Linked DNA regions of Homo sapiens: region 2 is linked to region 1. Evidence: fine-mapped expression QTL. A gene starts in region 1. The other region holds a variant in brackets. All regions are shown on one strand. Distances are from middle to middle. Region 1 holds the start of DCTN2 (dynactin subunit 2). Region 2 overlaps KIF5A (kinesin family member 5A).

What was found. PIP is the estimated chance that this variant, and not a neighbour inherited with it, causes the effect.
Region 2: its variant is fine-mapped to the expression of DCTN2 in whole blood (INTERVAL, PIP 0.95).

What each region holds. Positions count from the first base shown.
Region 1 is chr12:57,543,960-57,549,334 of GRCh38, reverse strand. DCTN2 (dynactin subunit 2) reads left to right here and starts at 2,143. Exons shown (of 14, transcript NM_001261413.2): 1 at 2,143-2,307; 2 at 3,239-3,307. The coding sequence starts at 2,272. RefSeq lists an enhancer at 1,875-2,014.
Region 2 is chr12:57,579,880-57,585,254 of GRCh38, reverse strand. KIF5A (kinesin family member 5A) reads right to left here. Exons shown (of 29, transcript NM_004984.4): 24 at 4,083-4,299; 25 at 3,687-3,840; 26 at 3,303-3,385; 27 at 2,626-2,653; 28 at 2,040-2,154; 29 at 1-1,037. The coding sequence ends at 2,076. Among named protein-coding and RNA genes, the nearest start is that of PIP4K2C, 8.6 kb to the left of the region's middle. The variant A/G (reference allele first, on the strand shown) is at 2,209.

The sequences.
Region 1 (5,375 bases):
AGTCAGAAAGCAGTGAAGGAGGGGCAATGATGGGGATGGGTAAGGCCAGAGAGACTTTGAAGTCTGAGGCAAAGCCGGCATTTGGGTTTCAGGCAAATTCAGATACCTACGGGAGTGTGTGTTTTCTGTCTCAGTAACCATTGGAGGATAGAGTCCCAATACTTCAGCCCCCTTCCCTGGCCAAAAAAAAAAAGGTGTGGGGGAAGAAAAACGAAAGAAATGCCAAGCCCAGAGATTCCTTGTCCTTCCTTCCTTTGGGTCAGACTCCTGCTGCAGCCCCTGGAAAGAACCACCAAGAAGCTGGCCAAATTGATTTTTCTCCATGTCACAGGCCTCTGCTGGCCAACAGAGAGTTGGACTGCAGGAGTTGAGGTTCTAGGCAAAGAGGAAGGGCAGGGTGGATGGGAGAAGGAGGAGGAAAGGAAAGTTCTGCTCAGCAACTGTCTGGTGAGTGGTTAAGGTCACTTAAGACACTATGGGACAAAAGTAAGAGGCTGATAGCCTGGCCAGACAAGACCTAACTATTCAGAACTCAGGGGGTTTCCCACATTGGGGCTACACCTCTAACCTACCTTGAATCTTAAGGGAACTGAAAGAAAAGAGTCCAACATAAGGAATGGGACAGGAAAGCTGTAGGACTATGGAGAAAGGGATAGAGGCTTGGGGAGGAGCCAGGAGAAAGAAAGACAACGAGTTCCGAACTCAGGAACTCTCTAGTCACTTGGTTTGGCACAATTTCTAAGTGTTGCAGCATCCTGCAAGCTCAGGAAACATCCTGGGAAACATCCCATCCTTGGGTCCCCAGGGGCTCCAAGGTGGCATCTTTAGTAAAGGGGTTTCAAAATGCCAGTCCATGGAGGGTCACTGGTCAGAGACAAAAGTTCACTGAGTATGCCCTCACCTCCAAAAGAACAATGGTGAGTTTTTTTTTAATATAAAGATGGATTTGATAAGTTTCAAAGGACTATCTTTTATTCTGAGTGTGTCCTTCTTGCTTTTCTACCAAGTAATGATGGTGACAGTAAATAATAGGTTTTCTATTTGTAATATACTTACTTGATAAAATAAAAAGGCAAATCTTCAAGGTTTGTAGTTGTTTTAATTTTATTGAACGATGAAATTTAAAAGTCTGAGAACGGAAGGTAAGGTTGGTGAATAGGTACAAAAAATTAGAAAGTATAATAAGACCTACTATTTGATGGCACAATAGGGTGACTATAGTCAAGAATAACTCAACTGTACATTTTAAAATAACTTAAAGAGTAATTGGATTATTTGTAACTTAAAGGATAAATGCTTGAGAGGATGGATACCCTCTTCTCCATGATGTGCTTATTTCACATTGCATGCCTGTATCAAAATATCTCATGTGTCCCATAAATACATACACCTACTGTGTACCCACAAAATTGAAAAAATTGAAAAATAAATAAAAGTCTGAGAACTATTAACGAAGTAGTTAAGAGCCCAGAGAGTGTTCAGACAGACATGGAGACACCACTTACCTACTTATGAACTTCAGATAGAATTGCCAGATTTGAAAAACAAAAAACAAAAACAGGATGCCCAGTTAAATGTGAATTTCAGATACTTAATTTTTGGGGGGTTAGTATACCCACACACCACACACCACACACACACACCTACTTATTATCTGAAATTCAAATTATCTGAAAGCCCTTACTTGAGAAGATTGCCTAACTTTTTCATTCCTAACATACACTACGCGTTTACTAAATTTTACTTCTTGTTTTTATTTTGTTTTTATAATACACAGTATCAAGCAAACTTCTTGTTTTTGAAACCCCGGCTGTGTCACAGTATGACTACCTGTATCATTTAATCTAGTCATTTTATTCCTGGGAGCCCCAAACAGGAATTATAAATGTTCTTTCACTGACTTGCTGTAAAAGTGAGAGAAAAGGCTGTATGAAATAGCTCCCCAAGGTTCGTTATTGTCGCTCCCCGCCCAAGCTCCAGTACACCAAAACTACACATCCCACAATCCTAGGCGGCGTCCCCTGGCCATTACCTCATTCCCTGGCCTCGTTCTCCCCAATCCCGGCCTCTCCAGGGGTGTGGCAGCAGGGCTGTTCTCGCGACTTTTGCTTTACCCTTCTGCTGTGCTACTGCTGTCGCGAGACTTCCTGCTCATCTGCCGCTCCCTTTGCCGCCGCCTTAGCCCGGGACCCGAACCCAGCCTCTCCCCTACCCGAACACCGGCCCCGGCTCCACCGAGGCCCGGGTCCCCCAGCCCGTCTCGCCGCCGCCATGGCGGACCCTAAATACGCCGACCTTCCCGGCATTGTGAGTACAGGACCGGCCCCGGCTCCCCAGGACCGCGCCCCCGACCTCCCAAGGACCCCCAGCAGAAACCAGCCCGCGACCCCTCCCGCCTGCAGCCCATCCTCCGCCCAAGGGCTCCCGCCGCTCGTTCTCCGATCGGCCTCAGCACCCCCCGAACTCTTCTGACCCGACTGGGCCGGGCCGCCGGACGGCGCACCAGGCCCCCTTTCCGGCAGTCGCCGGTAGCTCGGCCCAGAAATCGACTCCGGGTACTGACCTCTTGTGCCTGAGTTTTTCCACCATCCGTGTCAACGCCTCCCATGTCCCCCCCAAATCTCTCCATAAGACCCCATCGCTACCCCAGACACACACACCAGACCACTTAACGATGGCCTTCATCCTGCCAAGGAAGAGGTTCTGCCATCTGGCAGAACCCTCTTGTGCCAGATGGGGAGCTCTATCCTTGAGGGAACCTATGCCCTCCCCCAGCCCCCACTCCCATGACAATCCTGGCGTGTACCTTCCTTTTGTGCTGCCCTGCCTGCTTCTCAAGGTGAGGGTTGGGACACAGGACCTTGAGTACTAAGGTCCTGAGTCACTCTCAATCCTTGTGCCAGGGTGGTGGTGTACGGGGCCTAATTGGAGGATAGCCTTCACCTTCTTTGGCAATAGTGATTGCCAAGGACCTGCCCGCCTCTAGATTTAGGGTAACATCGTTGCTATCACTTACACTCACCGTTTACTGTCAGGTCCCAATTGTTTCCGCTGTCATCCCTACCCCTTGAGACATGGGAACTGACATACTGTTGACTCACGGGGCAGGTGGAGGAGAAAGGACAGAACCCTGACATCACACCCCGCCTTCTCTGTTAGCTTATTCAAATGGAGTGGGGGAAGGGGTGTTGTTGGATGCTGGGTAGTGAGGTTGGGTGGTCACTGCTTCTACCTGCAGGCCAGGAATGAGCCAGATGTTTATGAAACTAGCGACCTACCTGAGGATGATCAAGCGGAGTTCGATGCGGTAAGAATGTGTGCTGCCACAGACTCCTCCGGACTCTGACCTTTCTCCCCTAGACAGGTCCTTCCCTTTCTCGGGGGAGCTACAGCAATAAGCGGGTATGCCAACCCCAGCCTGGGTGGTATATAGGTTGCAGGGCTTGCAAAGACCTTGCTGGGCTTGCAGCCACCAATGAGCAATGGCAGGAGGGAGAGTCAAGTCAGCGGAATTACAGCTAACAACATCTGTTTGCAAAGCCCTGATTCTTGGGCCTTTTAAATAAAATTGAAATATCTCAAAACAGGTTTGGAGCTAGTGACTTAGGCCCCTGGGTTCTAACCCATGGAAATGAATCATGAAGCCTGGGCACTTGTAATAAACTGCTACCAAGAACTAGACTTTGAAATATGGAGAAATACTTTTTCCATATGAATATCCAGTATCCATTGGGCAAGGAATTAAGAAAGTGATTCCAAGATTTTAGAGCAAAACAAATTTGAGGAAGAATGTAAATATTTCACATCAGCGGATGTGAGACTGTGGTTGCATTTTTAGATCCGAGAATTCTGAGGATGGAGTAATTAGGTACGGATACATTTTAACTGTGAGGGGAAACATTTAGTATGGTTTATTGAGTGTGTTCATTCTGTGGTTTTTTTTGTGCAATGCAGAGGAAGAAATGTCTCTGCCCCCAATGAGCCCCAGACTAATGGGGAATTAGGATACATATAGGAAACATATAGAAGGAAAAAAAAATTGAGTGAATGGAAATCAACATAGTAAAAACTCTGTTTAAGTGCCAAGAGGTGTGTTTATAGGATGTGTTTTAGGTTCTATTATTTCTGAAGACAGCTGGGCTGGGATCACATTGATGATGTGAGTTCTCAGTAAAGATGTGTCCAAGAGTCATTGCAATATGCAGGCTCAGTATGCTTGTCTGTAAGTCCTGTGGCTATGTCTGTGGGGCTGGTTAATTCTGGGGAATGCTGACTGCTGGCTTACAATGTGTGGCTTGGCGTACTCACTTATTTCTTATTTGACTCCCCCATGTGGAAGTGGTTCTTACATTGTGGGAAACACCTTCTCTGTCCCTTCTCCCAGTGGTGTGTTCCTTGTGGCTTCTGTATTTGCTGGCATGCCAATCTATCCCCTAAGCTTGAGTATCTTGGAGATAATGCAGATGATGTTGTTGCTCAAGGACCTGGGTGTGCACCTGTCACTCCAAGAGGCATCTTATAGGAAGCTGCCTCTGTCCTCACAGAATAGGAGTGTATACAATCGGTTCTCTGTATTTATGGGTTCCAAACCCATGGATTCAACCAATCACAAATGGAAAATATTTTTTAAAAATAAAAAATAGGCCCAGTGTGGTGATTCATGCCTGTAATCCCAGCACTTTGGGAGGCTGAGGCAGGTGGATCATTTGAGGCCAGGAGTTTGAGACCCCGTCTCTACTAAAAAATATAAAAATTAGCAAGGCGTGGTGGCGAGCGCTTATAGTCCCAGCTACTGTGGAGGCTGAGGCAGGAGAATTGCTTGAACCTGGGAGGTGGAGGTTGCAGTGAGCCGAGATTGCGCCACTGCACCCCAGCCTGGGTGACAGAGCAAGACTCCATCTCAAAAAAAAAAAAACCAGTACAACAATAAAAAAAAAAACAAAATTTAAAAATACAATATAACAACTATTTACATAGCATTTACATTGTACTAGGTATTTTAAGTAATCTAGAGATGATTCAAAGTATACAGGAGGGTGTAGGTAGGTTATATGCAGTTACTATGCCAATTTATATAGAAGATGGGAACATATGCAGATTTTGGTATCAAGGGAGGTCCTGGAACCAGTCTCCCACAGTTGCCAAGAGACAGCTGTATGCTGAGAACTTTACTGCACTACCACAGTTCAGACTGTTCAACTTAGGCCTAGGCTTCTGCCCTTCATGGTGAGATAATGAATAGAACTCAGTCCTTTTGTCGCTGTGATACAAACAGGTAGTTTCACAGTAATCCTCTTTCTAAACAAAAAAATACATATTGTCATTCCCTTTTGAAGATACTGGGATATCTCTTAATAAAAAGGAGATGACACCCA
Region 2 (5,375 bases), 36 kb before region 1:
AAGGCAACTAGAGAGATTTTGCCAATGAGCTGGAAGCCCCCAAACCAAGGGGTGGAGATGGGAGGAGCATGCCGCCCAGTATGGAACAAGAAAGAAATCCAGCTCATCACTTCAACTTGAGGGCACTGTGACAAAAAAAAAAGGCTCAGAAATTTCCCAGCCTATTCACCCCCAAACCCAAGGAATCAATCATTTTGACTACACCTGCCTGTAACCATCTCCATGGACAGATGAGCAGCCATTGACAGGCTGCTGGGAGCAGTCTGCCTCCTCCATTTTTCAAAATATTTTAAATCAGCTCTGGGTTCTGGTCATGAGCTCTGGGGCAGGGAATATCAAAAGGAGCTTGAAGAAAAAGGGAAATGGTCCCTTGAGCAACCCATTTCTCAGTCCAGGGGAAAACAGGAAGAGGGAGGCAAAAGGCAGACTTTGTAGGGCAGAAGTAACACCTGAATCCTTTGATTAAGGTGAGGGGTGTATGAAGAAAATTATATGTCTCAATTAGCAGCCCTTCCATTTTACCTTCCCCTGTGCTATATGTGAAAGAGGAGGGAGGAAGAGTCTATTTCTCTGTCTCATGATGCTAAGACATTCTTCTGCTTAAGGCTTTGTGTGTGTGCATGCGTGTGTGCATGTTTGTGTGCGTGCGTGCGTGTGTGTATGAAGGGTCACAACCCTCTAGCTCCCATTTTTCCTTTTGTCATCTCTGTGACCTCTACTCAGTGACTAACACCACTCAGTGTGAGACGAGTAGATGAGAAAGAAGAAACATTCACCCTCCTCCCTATTGCCCCAAATAAGGAAGGTAGACTATGCTTTGAAATTGCTAAATACATCAGTAGATACTTGAGAATAAGACAGAAGAGAGACATAGCAGCAGCTTTTGATATATAGATACAGAGTACAAAGAGATACAGAGTAAGTAAGAGAAGACATCAAACATAGTACAGTCCAACAACAGGGGTTGGGGAGGGAGTTAGTATCAGAGACCACAGGTTTGCAGCATGCTGAGAAGAGGCCTCAGTCCCTCTTAGAAACTGGGAAAGAAAGAGAAAGAGGGTGTGAGGGCCCAGCTTGTAGCTCAGTCACAGAACAGGAACAGGTGGCATCTGCACACACTTTGGTTTACTGTCCTGTTCCTTTAATACCAACAAGCAGACCCCCCTACCACCGCCCCCCGTGACCCAGGCTTGCACCTCCACCCCTAGGTCTCCCCAACTCCTCTTCTGCATTCCTACTTCTCTGCTTCTCAGACTTTTCTGCCTGTGTGTGCCTGGTTTACTATTCTGGGAAACCCCTGGAGAGGGCTCAGCTTAGATGCAGCCCAGTAAGAGACTGGCCATGTTCTCTGTGCCACTTCTGGGCCCTAAAGCAACCTTGGTGAGAAACCCAGTGACACACAAGAACAAAGAAGGTTCCTGTGCTGCTAGAGGAGAGCACCTGGGGACAGAGGAGGAAAAAGAGGGGCTTTGCCACCTCCACTGAGCAAGATGGGAGGGGAGCGCTGACTGATTTCGTGGGGCGTTTCCTAAAGCTTACTGGTGGCATATACAGATGGGAAGAGGATGGGACACAGGTGCAGGCGTGAAGCAAACATCGCCTTAACTGGAGATGTCTTAGTTCCAAAAACACCTATCCATCCAAAATTATTTCAGGGTGGAGGAAGAGGTGGGGTTGAGATGGCCCCCTAGGGTCTCCTGATAGATCTGCAGTCTACCACCCCTGTGGTTCTAATCTACAGCGGCCAAGCTCACTTCTTTGGACATGTGACAGTGACCCCTAGTGGCAAAAAGACAGTACTGTGGTTACCACTGTAGCCTAACGGAAAGCAAAAGGGGGCACGGGAGGTCAACGTCCAGATTACATGGGGCAGCACAGGTGTAGCCCCCAACAGGGGAAAGCAGGAGTTGAGGGGTAACTACATAATTAAAGTTTTGAGGTGATAAAAAAAAAAAGAAGCAGCAGCAGGAAAACCAAAGAGGCTGTCAGCAAGAAGGGAAGCAACCTGAGGCTGGTCCGAGGAAGCAGCCTGACGCTACCTGAAAGTGCAGGTATGCAGCCGTGGGTGTGGGAGATTAGCTGGCTGCTGTCTCTTGGTGGAGAGGGAAAAGCTTGGCCTGGTCCTCAGCCTCATAGCCACACGGCAGGTCACTCCTGGAGGAAGAGACCCACCATGATCAGCTCCATAGAAATTAAAGTATTCCTGTC[A/G]TCATGGTTACTCTGCTCTGAGAGTGTCCCTGTGAGATCACAAACGGCAGGGACTATTTGTGTTTTACAGGAATACAGGGAAACTCAAGGCCAGAGGGATGTAAATGACTTGTCCAATGTCACAAGGCTTCCAAAGGTAGGAGAGAAACCCAGTCGTCAGATGCCCACGTTGTTTTCGTCCAGACCTTATCACTGGAATAGGGAGAAGCCACAGATGGGATTGGAGGAGGGGAGATATTCTGCACTGAGGCAGGGGAATGACTGGATCTCCTGGACAACACAGTGATGAAAAGAATGAGTCTCACTCCCTCCCCCTTCCCCAAAGGCTCCAGGAACCTCCAAGTGGGGCACAAGGGAAATTTAATCATTTCTTCTGGTCCCACCCAGAGAACCCAGGGGTAGTGGGGACTGTTGTACCTATTGTCATTGATATCTGTGGCATTTCCTGAAGAGATCATCATTGAGAACACAGGATTAGAAGAAGAAAAAAGGAGATTGGGTGTTAGAAACAGTTTGCGCAAACCCTCTCCCATCTTAATCCCTTAGAGAAAAAGATAAGCTGTGACACTTTCTCCTTAGTTATCCCAAGCTACATCATTATTTTGTTCGAGAAAAAGTTTCTGCAGCCCCTCACCAAGGAGAGGAAAAGGGAACTGGAAGGCAAGGGCTGGGATTGGCGTGGTAATAGGAGGAATCCACTCCCAGGCAGCCTGAGACCTAAAGGGCTGGGCAGTGCTCAGGCTGTAGGTACAGGGTCACTTTTTTCTTCATATGTGTTATTATTATTATTTTAGAGATGGGGCTTTACTATGCTGCCCAGGCTGAGTGCAGTGGCTATTCACAGGTGTATTCACAGTGCACTTCAGCCTTAAGCTCCTGAGCTCAAGCAATCCTCCTATCTCAACCTCCCAAGTAGCTAGGACTACAGGTGCATGCCACCACACCTGGCTATATGTATTTTTTTTTTTATTTGAAGCCTTGGCACACCAGAAAGGTTCAGTCAGTGTTTTTTGTACACTAAGGTCACTTACTTTTATGCCTCTCAACTTGCCCTGAGGACCCCAAAGGTGGGATTACCCATCTTTTTCACTCACCATTGTCCATGTTGGCCTTCTGGTAGGAAGCCAAGGGGCCGCCAGAAGATGTGGCTCCACTGCTGGTACAGGAGTTTGCAAAGCTGGATGGAGCAGAGGAAAGAGGCAGCCTCTGACACCCACCCTCCACTAGTCTGAGGACCACTAATCCACACTCATCCTCAGTGATAGAGCTGCTCAGCCCTCCCCATCCCCAGAGAGCAGAGGAAAACAAACATGGCCACAGGCTGGGAGGGCAGACACCTACCTTCTAATCATAGGCATGAAGTTGAGAAAGGGTTTAGGAAAATAATTAAGCCACAACCAATAACTGCCCCCACCCTATGCCTTCTAGGGTCCAGGGAGCTTTGGGTGGGACTCCAACCCACACGTGTGGTCACTCACTACATATCTGAGGTGGAGCTGGGTGTGGCCTGCAGGTAGAGATTCTGGTAGTTCTGGAAGAGGCTGTTGGTGTAACTGATGCACTCAGGGCTCCGGGTGCCATAGGGGTTGGTGGGTGAGGATGCTGGGTAGTGGCCAGGCCGGACGGGTTTGGCTGCAATAAAGAAAGAAAACAACCATGAGGAGGCTATGACCCTGCATTTGCCCTGGTCCCTGAGGTCATTTAGCTGGGGTTGAACTGAGTTGCTTGTAACATAATCACTTTTTTACTTTTTGGGGGGAAGTGGGATGAGGCTAGGGGTAGGTAAGAAGCAATAATCTAGTTGCTTGGCAATTAGCAATTTGCTAAATTTGCTTCAGGAGATACTCCCACCTTGCCTGCTAACACCTACTCACCAATCTGGGCAGAATGGCCCCGTTTGCCCGAGCTCTTGTAGCGAACGGCCTCCTTGATGCGGTCCACCTCCTGCTGGTACCGGCGCTTGTCCTTCATGGCGCCCTCCTTGGCCTCCTTCAGTGCACCCTCCAGGGCCTTAACTCTCTCAGCCGTAGCCCTAAGTCGTTTTTCCAATTTAGGAAGCTCACAACGCAGATCTGCATTGTCACGTACCAGCTATGGGGCAAGCCAAAGGGAAGAAGTGGAAAGGAAGGCAAGTGACCCAAGACGGTCACCCAGAGGAGCGTAGGGGACAGGGGTGAGGAGAGAGAATAAAGAAAAATCAGGAGTCAGAGAAGATGGAGACCATGTCATTTCCTCAAAAGGCCTCATTGCCTTTATGTAATGGACTGTTCTGTCCAGCTCATTCCTTCTCCCAGAGCGAAGGGTGGGTGGTCAGGCATTTAAAAGTTATATAATTTTCTAGGCAGTAAAACCTGCCATCTCCACTGCAGCCCAGAACTCTTGTGAGAGCGCCTTGTCCTGTCTCCATCTGGTTTCCCCCACATCTCCCAGCATGTGCCAGATCAATAGCCCCAGGGCGGCCATGGGGATGAGGGACCCGCTTCCCCAGAGAGGGCTTTGTGGGCATGCAAAGGGTGGGGCAGCAAGGGCACAGTAGCAGTTTGGTGGCTGTGGCATTGAGGAGAATCTGTGCATGGCAGGTGCAGTGCAGAGCAGGAGCAGAAGCTGGAATTCAGGAGCCCCTGACATACACATATAGACAGGCAGAGCCCGCCCCGTAGGAAGGAAAGAAAATGTTTGAGGTCTCACAAACATTTGCACTCATTACCTTCACATTCAAGGACTTCCTGGGTTATCCCTCCCCCAGTGAAATTAAGCTAGAGCATGGGAGCAACCACCCTGCAGCCCGAAAAGACTTCCTGATCTTTTTACAGGTTCCACACAATGACTGGGGGCACTATAGGTTGCAAAAGGAGCAGGGCCTTGGAAGACAGCGGGTAAATCAGCATAGCGGGGAACACTGGGGGCTCAAGGGGACAAGCTAGAAACCCTTCCATGCAGTTTCCATTTGGACAATTTATGGAGTATAAGCAATGTTTTGCTGTGACAATACTTTAGCTTAATTGATATAGGGCTATAGTCCTGGCTGTTAAGATTCTCTTAACTGAGAAGTTTTTATCTCCTTTTCCTTTTTACTCTTGTGTCTGCTGAGGTAGGAAATTGTAGTGAGTCCTCTATTTATCCTATAGGTGAGTCATTTTTGTTTTTTTGGGACTTTGAACAGAGGC